Linked DNA regions of Homo sapiens: all the other regions are linked to region 2. The links come from fine-mapping of genetic effects on gene expression. A gene starts in region 2. Each other region holds a variant in brackets. All regions are shown on one strand. Distances are from middle to middle. Region 1 has its middle 66 kb from the start of KPNA3. Region 2 holds the start of KPNA3 (karyopherin subunit alpha 3). Region 3 overlaps KPNA3 (karyopherin subunit alpha 3). Region 4 overlaps KPNA3 (karyopherin subunit alpha 3).

The links.
Region 1: its variant is fine-mapped to the expression of KPNA3 in fibroblasts (GTEx, PIP above 0.99).
Region 3: its variant is fine-mapped to the expression of KPNA3 in whole blood (TOPMed, PIP above 0.99). The same link has a PIP of 0.9 or more in blood mononuclear cells.
Region 4: its variant is fine-mapped to the expression of KPNA3 in whole blood (INTERVAL, PIP 0.91).

The regions. Positions count from the first base shown.
Region 1 is chr13:49,857,519-49,860,203 of GRCh38, forward strand. No RefSeq gene overlaps it. Among named protein-coding and RNA genes, the nearest start is that of KPNA3, 66 kb to the left of the region's middle. The variant T/C (reference allele first, on the strand shown) is at 1,146.
Region 2 is chr13:49,791,330-49,794,014 of GRCh38, forward strand. KPNA3 (karyopherin subunit alpha 3) reads right to left here and starts at 1,353. Exons shown (of 17, transcript NM_002267.4): 1 at 1,109-1,353. The coding sequence starts at 1,177. RefSeq lists enhancers at 1-387, 392-1,053, 1,054-1,715, 1,519-1,648 and silencers at 509-1,078, 1,199-1,448.
Region 3 is chr13:49,726,798-49,729,482 of GRCh38, forward strand. The region is part of intron 6 of KPNA3 (karyopherin subunit alpha 3); the gene reads right to left. Among named protein-coding and RNA genes, the nearest start is that of EBPL, 37 kb to the left of the region's middle. The variant T/A (reference allele first, on the strand shown) is at 1,675.
Region 4 is chr13:49,759,308-49,761,992 of GRCh38, forward strand. All of the region lies in intron 1 of KPNA3 (karyopherin subunit alpha 3), which reads right to left. Among named protein-coding and RNA genes, the nearest start is that of KPNA3, 32 kb to the right of the region's middle. RefSeq lists a silencer at 301-370 and enhancers at 1,459-2,179, 2,180-2,685. The variant C/T (reference allele first, on the strand shown) is at 1,151.

The DNA.
Region 1 (2,685 bases), 66 kb after region 2:
GAAAAAAGAATCAGTTCCTATAAAAAAGGACAGCATAGTTGCTAGAACCCTCTAGAGATGTACAGATATTAGATAGTTTTGGCAGGAAGTGGTGGCCAAAATACATGAAACAACAACCTGAAAAAATAAGAGTTAATCAGGGATTACAGCAGGGATGAAAACAAACAAGCCAAAAAGCCACAGCAACAACAAAAACAGGTGGAAGATAACAGGAAAATCTAATCTTCACTGCCCATGGGCTGGAATGTAATGTTTTGGCTATGTTTTTCTTCTTCTTTTTTTTTTTTTTTTTTTTGAGACGGAGTTTCGCTCTGTCACCCAGGCTGGAGTGCAGTGGCGCGATCTTGGCTCACTGCAAGCTCCGCCTCCTGGGTTCACGCCATTCTCCTGCCTCAGCCTCCCGAGTAGCTGGGACTACAGGCGTCCGCCAACACGCCCGGCTAGTTTTTTGTATTTTTAGTAGAAATGGGATTTCACCGTGTTATCCAGGATGGTCTCGATCTCCTGACCTCGTGATCTGCCCACCTCGGCCCCCCAAAGTGCTGGGATTACAGGCGTGAGCCACCGCGCCCGGCCTTGGCTATGTTTTTCTTGGTAAACATCTCTACTATCTGCTTTTGAAATGATGGAGCTACCTTTCAGTTTTAAAAACAATATATTTCAGGCATCTCAAGTAATCCACAATCTGGAGGCAAAAGTCAAGACTGAGTTGACAGAGCACAAATCTGTTTCATTTGACTACATTAAAGAGGTTTGCATTCTTTCAAGGGCTTACTAGCGAGTTGTTCAGAAGCAGTACTGACACGGGGGCCTGGGATTGTTGAGGGATGCTTATGCACAGAGAGGAAGGTTTGCTAATCCAGGAGCACTGAATCATCATGATGTAAACTTGCAGGACTTCATGGCTTCAGTGATACATCATTGATCTTTAATTCCAGTCCACAGAACTTTTTTTTATGGTAAGGAAAAGGATATGGGAAGAAAAAAGTATTATAAGCATGTTTCTCATATTTCTTCCCTCTTTTACCCTATAAATAAAAGAGCAAAGGTATTACTGAGCAAATGTTCTCTTGAAAAACTTGATTTCTTCTTATGCTTGGAAATTTTGCTATAGAGATAGTCATTGCTACTGTTTACAGTAGACA[T/C]TCCAACCCTGAAAACTAAACTCTGAAGTATTTACTATGCTTAGATAAATCACATATTTGTCCTCATGAGTACAGCCTGTTCAGGTTTGTACATACCATTGCGTAATTCCCTAAGAACTCTTTCCAATTTAAAAGGATGACTTTGGACACCTTTGTGGAAGTTGATAGGAAAGATTTTTGCTCTTTAAAATACTTGTTAAATAGGCCAGTTAAAAGTATGCTTTGTACTGAATTTTGCCTTTATCAGTAAAGGCTCCAAGAATGTTGATAAAATAAGAGAAAAAGAAATTGGGCTTTTCTCCTGCCAGAATTGGAAGGGAGAGACCCAAAACTAAGAACGGAAAATCTGTCATAATAATGGCAGAATCCTCAAAAGAAGATACACAAATAAATGCAGCTGAGGAACCTGGAGACTTCCCTGGTTTCTGTCCCTTGTGAGACTTCAAATCATAAAATACCCTAATATCTTTCTGTAATCTTCTGTCATGTTCTAAAATGTCTAAAATATTGAAACAGTCCTTATTATCAGAAAAAAGTAATCATGAACAGAGCCCAGAATATGGTATAAAACATTACCTTACTGTTCTCATCATGTCATTGTTCAGTCCTACCTCCAAACAATGTCCCATGAGAAAACCCAGAAGACATCTCCCTCACTAAAGCATTGAGAAATGCATTAATAAATGGAGCACCTGCAACCTCTTTCAAAGGAGAGCTCTGTGGTTGCTCTCTTCTATAGGGTAGGTGGAAAATATGCCATTGACATGGTCTCCCCAATTTCAATGATGGGATGATGGGATCTCAGAGTGGCATAGGTAGGGGTGGCACTGAATCTCCAAGGACAAAGTAAATGCATCCACTGTAAAGGGCAATCAGAATGCTTTGGCCTGCAGACATATTTGATGGTGGTTAAGTTATGGTGTTCTTAGGAATGAAATAGATGGGCAATCTACCATTGTATTGCTTGATCTGTAACAGAGGGAAAAATTCTAGGTCTGGTAGCTAAAAACCTGATGAGTCACTGCAGTGGACAGTCATGGCCTCTTGTGTTGAGATCTAAGTCAATTCACAGAGCCAAAGCTCCTTGATTAAAGAGGAGGCTGGGAGCCAGGCACAGTGGCCCATGCCATCCCAGTGAGTCAGGAGGCTGAAGCAAGAGGATTGATTGCTTGAAGCCAGGAGTTTGACCTCAGACCCTACGAAAAAATTAATCTAAAATGTCGGGGCGCGGTGGCCCATGCCTCTAATCCGAGCACTTTGGGAGGCACAGGTGGGCAGATCACAAGGTCAGGAGTTTAAGACCAGCCTGGCCAACATGGTGAAACCCTGTCTCTCTAAAAATACAAAAATTAGCTGGGGATGGTGGCATGTGCATGTAATCCCAGCCACTTGGGAGGCTGAGGCAGGATAATTGCTTGAACTGGGACCCGGGAGGCGGAGGTTGCAGTGAGCCAAGATTGCACCACTGCACTCCAGCCTGGGCTACAGAGGGAGACACCATCTCAAAAAAAAAAAAAAAAAAAAAAAATCTAAAATGGAT
Region 2 (2,685 bases):
CCATTTTCCCCCTAACAAATCCAAAGGTCACGGTCCCAGTGAAGTTTGTGCATTATACTTACTGTTTTCAGTAGCTGCAGAGAGACCTCTAGCGCTGCCTCAATAAGCCGAGTTTGCAAATAGTACCTGCTAATGTCACCTTAATGAGACAATGGCAACATGCTGAGTAGCAACTAACTGAGTGACCGCGATGAATGTTTAGTTTTGCAACCACTTGGAAATTCTACTAGCTTGGAGCAAGAGGTATGTAAGAGAATTATGAACCTGTGTATCCAATTTATTTTAGTAAAACGTGTCAAAGAAATTATCACCCTATGCACACCCCACTCCAAGAAAGGCTAAGAAAACAAGTCCTATGAGCGGAGGTCGGAGCAACCTCTTTTCCGAAGCCTGAACACAATAGATGGCAAACTATTGTCCACCTTCAGCTCGCTCCAAATGCCAGCAGTTGCAGGAGTATGAGCTGCAACAGCTCGGCACGACTAGTCCAAAGACGAGCACTGGAATATAAGAAAATGGTCCTGGCGCATCCTACCCTCCCCCATCGATCACCCTCAAACAAGTCAGTTACCCGGCTGGTCCCCACCCCCCTCTGCGGGCCGCCACCGCCCGCCTGGGCCCGGCTCGCAGAAGGTAGGAGCCCGGACCGGCAGAGCCGAGGCTCCATGTGAGCCGCGCGGGAGGCGCAGAGGGGGCTGCACCGGACGGAAGGTTGCACCGGTGGCGGGCGCAAGCAGCGGCCGCCCCCTCGGCTGTGCGGTCGGAGGGCCCGGGCGGCAGCATCCCCGTTCATCCGGGCGGCCCTGGCCCGCGGACCCCGCCTCAGCTCCACATCCCCTCCTCGCCGACACCAGGCCGCGCCCGCGTGACGGGGCCGAAAACGCCGGCATTTCCCGGTCGCCGCGCCGGCAGCTCCGGGGGGTGACTGCAGCCCGGCCGGCGTCTCGCCGCCCGCTCCGCCCAGCCCGGGGCCGCGGTGACGGGAGGCGGCGGCCAACTCCGGCCGACCACAAGCCGACGAGAACCAGCCCGGCGCCGGCCCCCCGCCCCTCCCCGCGTCGCCGGGCCGGCGCGGCCAGGCGGGCCCAGACCGCGGAAGCACACTCACTTCCACATCGCGGCCCTTGTTCTTGAAGCTCTTGATGCGGTGGTTCTCCAAGCTGGGGTTCTCGGCCATGGCTGCGCGCGGCTCCGGCGGCGGCTACTCCTGCGGCTGCGGCGGCGGCGGCGGCGAATCTTGGAGCGGGAGGGGGAGGAGGGGGAGAGCGGGAGGGGGGAGGGGAGAGAAGAGCACGTTCTGTGACGCCTCCGAGCGCGAGGTGGCAGTAGCGCCGGGGGAGGCGCGGGCCGACTGCCGGGCCGGGTGGGGCGGGAACGGTGCTGAGAGCGGCGCGCGGCCGCGGAGGCTGGCGACACGTGACCGGGGGCGGTGACCGGCTTGGGCGTTCGCCGGGCTATACGTGCCCGTTGGTTCTCGGGATGACCCTGCCCTCTTCCCCTGCAAGGGCTCTCCACAACCCCTCGGTGCTGCAAGTTTTGTGCCAGAAATGGAGCCGGACCTGGCGACTTTTACTGCCCCTCAGGCGCGGGGCGGCGGTCGTCAACTACAGTTCCCATCATGCCACGATCCGCCTGGAGTAATTCTCCACGCCTAGTGAGAACGAGGAGAATGCCGGGACCCTTCCGCGCGCGGCTCTTTGCGCGCCGCGCTCATGTTGCTGGGCACAAAGCTCCGCCCCCACAAGGCCGCCTCTGGGCGGGGAAGAGCGGGGGAGCGTCCCTGGCACCTTGCGCCCTATCAGGAGGAAGAGGGCGGGCCTTCCTGGGAGCGCACCTCGCTGCCTGTAGCTAGAAGATCAGAAAAGGAACAACCGCGAGTGCTTTGCAGTCTCGCTTTTTTGGGGGTCTTCTCAAATAGCCACCTTCATTCGCTCTTCCCATGCTCTGCTTCAGTTTTATAAATAGCATTTCTACCTGACATGTACATGTGTATGTATGTGATACGAGTGTTTATATGCGTTACCTAGGTGCCCGCGCGGAAATTCAGCTCAATGAGAGCAGGTACTTTGGTTGAATTACTGCTGAATCTCTAGTGTCAAAACAATGCCTACCACGTCGTAGATACGCAATACTTGTTGAACTGGCGCTTTAGTGTCGCCCAGTTTCTTCATCATCCTTCCAAGCCCGGTTCTGCAACCTTCACTCTGGCAGTCCCTGTATTTACATGCCCCCCAACACTTCTTGTTCTACCACCACACAGAATCTTAGCCTTCAGGCAGCAGCCCAGCCCTGGTCCGCAGACTCTCCTGTGTAGCACTCCCACTCCCTCTGGGGGCATCGAAAGAATGAAAGAGGGAAATTTGGATGGATTACACTGATAAAGAGCTGCTTTCGGCCGGGTGTGGTGGCTCACGCCTGTAATCCCAGCACTTTGGGAGGCCGAGGAGGGCAGATCACAAGGTCAAGAGACCGAGACCAGTCTGGCCAACCATGGCCCGCATGGTGAAACCCCTTCTTTACTAAATATACAAAAATTAGCTGGGCGTGGTGGCGCATGCCTGGAGGCTGAGGCAGGAGAATCGCTTGAACCCGGTAGGCGGAGGTTGCAGCGAGCCGAGATGGCGCCACTGCACTCCAGCCTGGCGACAGAGGGAGACTCTGTCTCAAACAAAACAACAAAAACAA
Region 3 (2,685 bases), 65 kb before region 2:
CCAGATGTGGTGGTACACACCTGTAGTCCCAGCTACTTGGGATGCTGGGCGGGGGTGGGATGGGGGGATTGCTTGAGCCTAGGAGTTTGAGGATTCAATGAGCTGTGATTGTGTCACTGCACTCCAGCCTGGGTGACAGAGTGAAACCCTGTCACAAAAAAGACATAAAGGAAAGACCTGTTAAAAGGAAATGATAGATATTAAGTTAGGATAGCTGAAAGAGTACAAATTCCCTTAAGTGGAATACCAAGGATTGGGGGGATTTAGTCAGCAAAAATTAAGATTAGACAAAGGTTAGGGAGTTTGAAGAAAAGCCTATAAACAGGGAAGAGAGCAAGCAAGGTTGTTAGTATCAAAAGGTTAAAGAAGTCCGGGCAAGGTGGTTCACACCTGTAACCCCAGCACTTTGGGAGGCCAAGGCAGATGGATCACCTGAGGTCGGGAGTTTGAAACCAGCCTGGCCAACATGGCAAAACCCCCTCTCTACTAAAAATACAAAAATTAGCTGGACATGATGGTGCGTGCCTATAATCCCAGCTGCTCGGGAGGCTGAGGCAGGAGAATCCCTTGAACCCAGGAGGCGGAGGTTGTGGTGAGCTGAGATTGCACCACTGCACTCCAGCCTGGGCGACAGAGAGAGATTCCATCTCAAAAAAAAAAAAAAAAGAAAGAAAAAAGAGAAAAAAGGTTGAAGAGATCCAAGAACAAAAGGTTTTAAGGAGAATAGATGTCAGAGATATAGCAAATAGTGATATACAGGTTAAAAAGATGGAACATATGAGAAAATGAAGTAGCAGAGAAGAACTATGAGGGGACTTTAAAAAACTCATTAAAAATGTGTATTATGAAAAAAACTCCATGGATTTCAATTTTTTTGCACCAAAATAAACTCATACTAACTTTCTATACACGTCTGAACATGATCTAGTTTGAGGCACTAAGAGGGGTAAGGGGTAAGTCATCAATCTGAAAAGAGCCCCTAGAAGAGCAACATGAATCCTGCTAAAATTAAAGCAAAAACAAACATCAAATTTATGGTGAAGCTTGGGTGAAATAATGGTGAACTCACTGATGTACTTAAAACTTTACGGGGAAAATGCCCCCAAAGAAATCAGCGGTTTACAAATGGTTAACTCCTTTTAAGAAGGGACAAGTCGGCCGGGCATGGTGGCTCACGCCTGTAATCCCAGCACTTTAGGAGGCTGAGGCAGGCGGATCACGAGGTAAGGAGATCGAGACCATCCTGGCTAACACGGTGAAACCCCATCTCTATTAAAAATACAAAAAGTCAGCCGGGCGTGGTGGCAGGCACCTGTAGACCCAGCTACTCGGGAGGCTGAGGCAGGAGAATGGTGTGAACCCAGGAGGCGGAGCTTGCAGTGAGCTGATATCGTGCCACTGCACTCCAGCCTGGGCGACAGAGCGAGACTCTGTCTCAAAAAAAAAAAAAAAAAGGACAAGTCGATGTTGAAGATGAAATCCACAGCGGCAAACAATCAACAACAATATCTGAGGAAAAGATTAATCTTGGTCGTGCCCTAACAGAAGATGATTGCTGATTAACAGCAGAAACAATAACCAATACCAGACATCTTGATTGGTTCAGCTTACAAAATTATGACTGAAAAATTAAAGTTGAGCAAACTTTCCCCTTGATAGGTGTCAAAACCATTG[T/A]GCCCAGATAAGCCGTAGACAACAGCAGAGCTTCCAATGAAAATTTTAAACCAGAGGGATCAAGATCCTGAAGTATTTCTTCAAGGAATTGTAAAAGGAGATGAAACATGGCTTTCCCAGTATGATCCTAAAGACAAAGTACAATCGAAGCAAAAGTGGACTGGTCAGGAGGAAAGGTAATGACTAAAAAGTTTTTGGGGATGCTCAAGGTATTATTCTTGTTGACCTTCTAGAGGGCCAAAGAATGATAACACCTGCTTATTATGAGAGTGTTTTGAGAAAGTCAGCCAAAGCTTTAGCAGAAAAAAGCCTGAGAGAGCTTTACCAGAGAGTCTTTCTCCACCACAATGTTTCTGTTCATTCTGCTCATCAAACAAGAGCAATTTTGCAAGAGAATCAATAGGAAATCATTAGGTATCCACCTTACAGTTCTGATTTGGCCATCTTGTGACTTCTTTTTGTTTCCTAATCTTAAAAAAACAACCTGTAAAGGGCATCTAGTTTTCTTCAGTTAATATCATGAAAAAGACTGCGCTGACATGGTTAAATTCCCAGGACCCTCAGTTCTTTAGGGATAGACAATGGCTGGTAGTATCACTTACAAAAGTGTCTTGACCTTGATGGAGCTTATGTTGAGAAATCAAGTTTATATATTTATTATCTTTCATATATTTTATTGTCTTTTGATTCCACTTTTCCACAAACTTTTAAAATTTCCCCTGTATATGATGAATTCTAGCAGAAGGCAGGAAATAAGATGGTATATCAGAGGCAGGGAAGAAGTAAAAAAAACAGTAAGATCAAAAACAGTAAGACAGTATATGTTGCCTCAGACTGGAAGGAGAAAGTTATTAAGCTGGTTAGGTGGTTTGGCAAAATACTGGGAATGGGGGACTTAAATGAGAAAATGGATAAATGTAAAAAATAAAATTATAAAGCCAAAGAAAGTCTTTCAAGATGTCATGTGGAAAAATAAAAAAAAATGAGAAAAGATATAGAAAAAACGAGTGC
Region 4 (2,685 bases), 32 kb before region 2:
GAGGAAGGTTTCTCTTAATAGATGTAGTCTAGCTCAGCTGTTCCCAAACTTTTTGGCACCAGGGACTAGTTTCACAGAAGACAATTTTTCCATGGACTAGGAAGTAGAAGGAGTGGTTTCAGGATGATTCAAGTGCATGACATTTATTGTGCACTTTATTTCCATTATTATTATATTGTAATATGAAATAATTACACAACTCACCATAATGTAGAATCAATGGGAGGCCTGAGCTTGTTTTCCTGCAACTAGAGGTCCCATCTGGGGATGATGGGAGATGGTGACAGATCATCAGGCATTAGATTCTCATAAGGAACATGCACCTAGATCACTCGCATGCACAGTTCACAGCAGGGTTTGTGCTCCTTTGAGAATCAAATGCAGCTGCTGATCTGACAGGAAGTGGAGCTCGGGTGGTAATACAAGCAATGAGGAGCAGCTGTAAATACAGATGAAGCTTCACTTGCTTGCCTGCTGCCTACCTCCTACTGTGCAGCCCAGTTCCTAATGGGCCACGGACTGGTAGTGGTCCAGGGTTGGGGATCCCTGGTCTAGCTTAAAGAAGGAGTGATAGATTATCACCATTTTACAAATCCTAGTAAATAACAGACTTAGACAATGTTCCTCAGTGGTGATGTCAACATAACAGAAAGAGACAGCCAGACACTACGTGCCTTTCTGATGGAAGAGAAAACCATCACATATGATGCAGTCATGTTCCCAATTCCCCCAAATCATCTGAATCTGATAAAGCCTCCAGCTTCAACTTTGAATTTACAGGAAATACAGAGGGCCAATACACATGTCAAGTGACATGATAAGATGTAAAATCCAGCCGGGCACGGTGGCTCATGCCTGTAAACCCAGCAATCCAAGAAGACTGCTTGAGCTCAGGAGTTCAAGACCAGCCTGGGCAACATGATGAAATCCCATCTCTACCAAAAATACAAAAAACAACTCAGCCAGGAATGGTGGTACATGCCTGTGATTCCAACTACCCAGGAGACTGAGGTGGGAGGACTGCTTGAGCCCAGGAGGCAGAGGTTGCAGTGAGCCAAGATCACACCACTGCACTCCAGCCTGGGTGACAGAGTGAGATCCCATCTCAAAAAAAAAAAAAAAAAAGCAAAATTCAGATTATGAGAACCTC[C/T]ATGAACCCAGTTTCTCCAACAATAAAGTGCATAAAAAAGACAAAGATGGTGAGATTAAGAGACCATAAATTAAAAAGGAGACTTTGAGTTCACATCAATCAATCAATCGCAATGTGTGGACCTTGTAATAGTTGATTCCAGGTGTCAACCTGACTGGATTAAGGGATACCCAGATAGCTGGTGAAAGCATTAATTATCCTCAGTGGTTCAGACAGCACTGAGCTCGTCCCTCTTCTGCTGAAAGGAAAACCCGGGCGGTCAGGCATTTGATTAGAATGACTGGGCTGTCCCAGTGCCTGTGAGGGTATTTCCTGAAGAGACTGGCATTTGAGTTAGTAGACTGATAGGGGAAGTTTCACTCTCAATGTGGGTGGGCAGCATTCAATAAGCTGGGGCCCAGATGGAACAAAAAGAGGAGGCAAGAGTAATTCTTGCTGTCAGAACTCCAGATTCTATGGTCTTCGGATTCCAGGACTTGCACCAGCACTGCTGCCCTTTCCCCCCATGATCACGTTGGCAAGTGTGATAATGGTATCGTGTTTTTAAAAAGAATTCCTATATTTTAAATAACATACATATTCTTAATAACAAAAAAGTAGGACAAAAACAGTATATGTTACTTCTGAAAGACGTCATACTTTGGGAGGTCACCTGTTCTACAACAACTGGATCCTGGCTATTAACAGAAAAAAATATTTTTTAATGCAGTGCTGATGTCATATAAGTAGTAGAGAAGAGGGTCCCTCTCCCTCTCCCTCTCCCCACGGTCTCCCTCTCCCTCTCCCCACAGTCTCCCTCTCCCTCTCCCCACGGTCTCCCTCTAATGGCGAGCCGAAGCTGGACTGTACTGCTGCCATCTCGGCTCACTGCAACCTCCCTGCCTGATTCTCCCGCCTCAGCCTGCCGAGTGCCTGCGATTGCAGGCGCACACCGCCACGCCTGACTGGTTTTCGTATTTTTTTGGTGGAGACGGGGTTTCGCTGTGTTGGCCGGGCTGGTCTCCAGCTCCTAACCGCGAGTGATCTGCCAGCCTCGGCCTCCCGAGGTGCCAGGATTGCAGACGGAGTCTCGTTCACTCAGTGCTCAATGTTGCCCAGGCTGGAGTGCAGTGGCATGATCTCGGCTAGCTACAACCTCCACCTCCCAGCCGCCTGCCTTGGCCTCCCAAAGTGCCGAGATTGCAGCCTCTGCCCAGCCGCCACCCCGTCTGGGAAGTGAGGAGCGTCTCTGCCTGGCCGCCCATCGTCTGGGATGTGAGGAGCCCCTCTGCCCGGCTGCCCAGTCTGGGAAGTGAGGAGCGCCTCTTCCCGGCTGCCATCCCGTCTAGGAAGCGAGGAGCATCTCTGCCCGGCCGCCCATCGTCTGAGATGTGGGGAGCGCCTCTGCCCAGACGCCCCGTCTGGGATGTGAGGAGCGCCTCTGCCCAGCCACGACTCCGTCTGTGAGGTGAGGAGCGTCTCTGCCCAGCCACCCCGTCTGAGAAGTGAGGAGCCCCTCCACCCGGCAGCCGCCCCATCTGAGAAGTGAGGAGCCC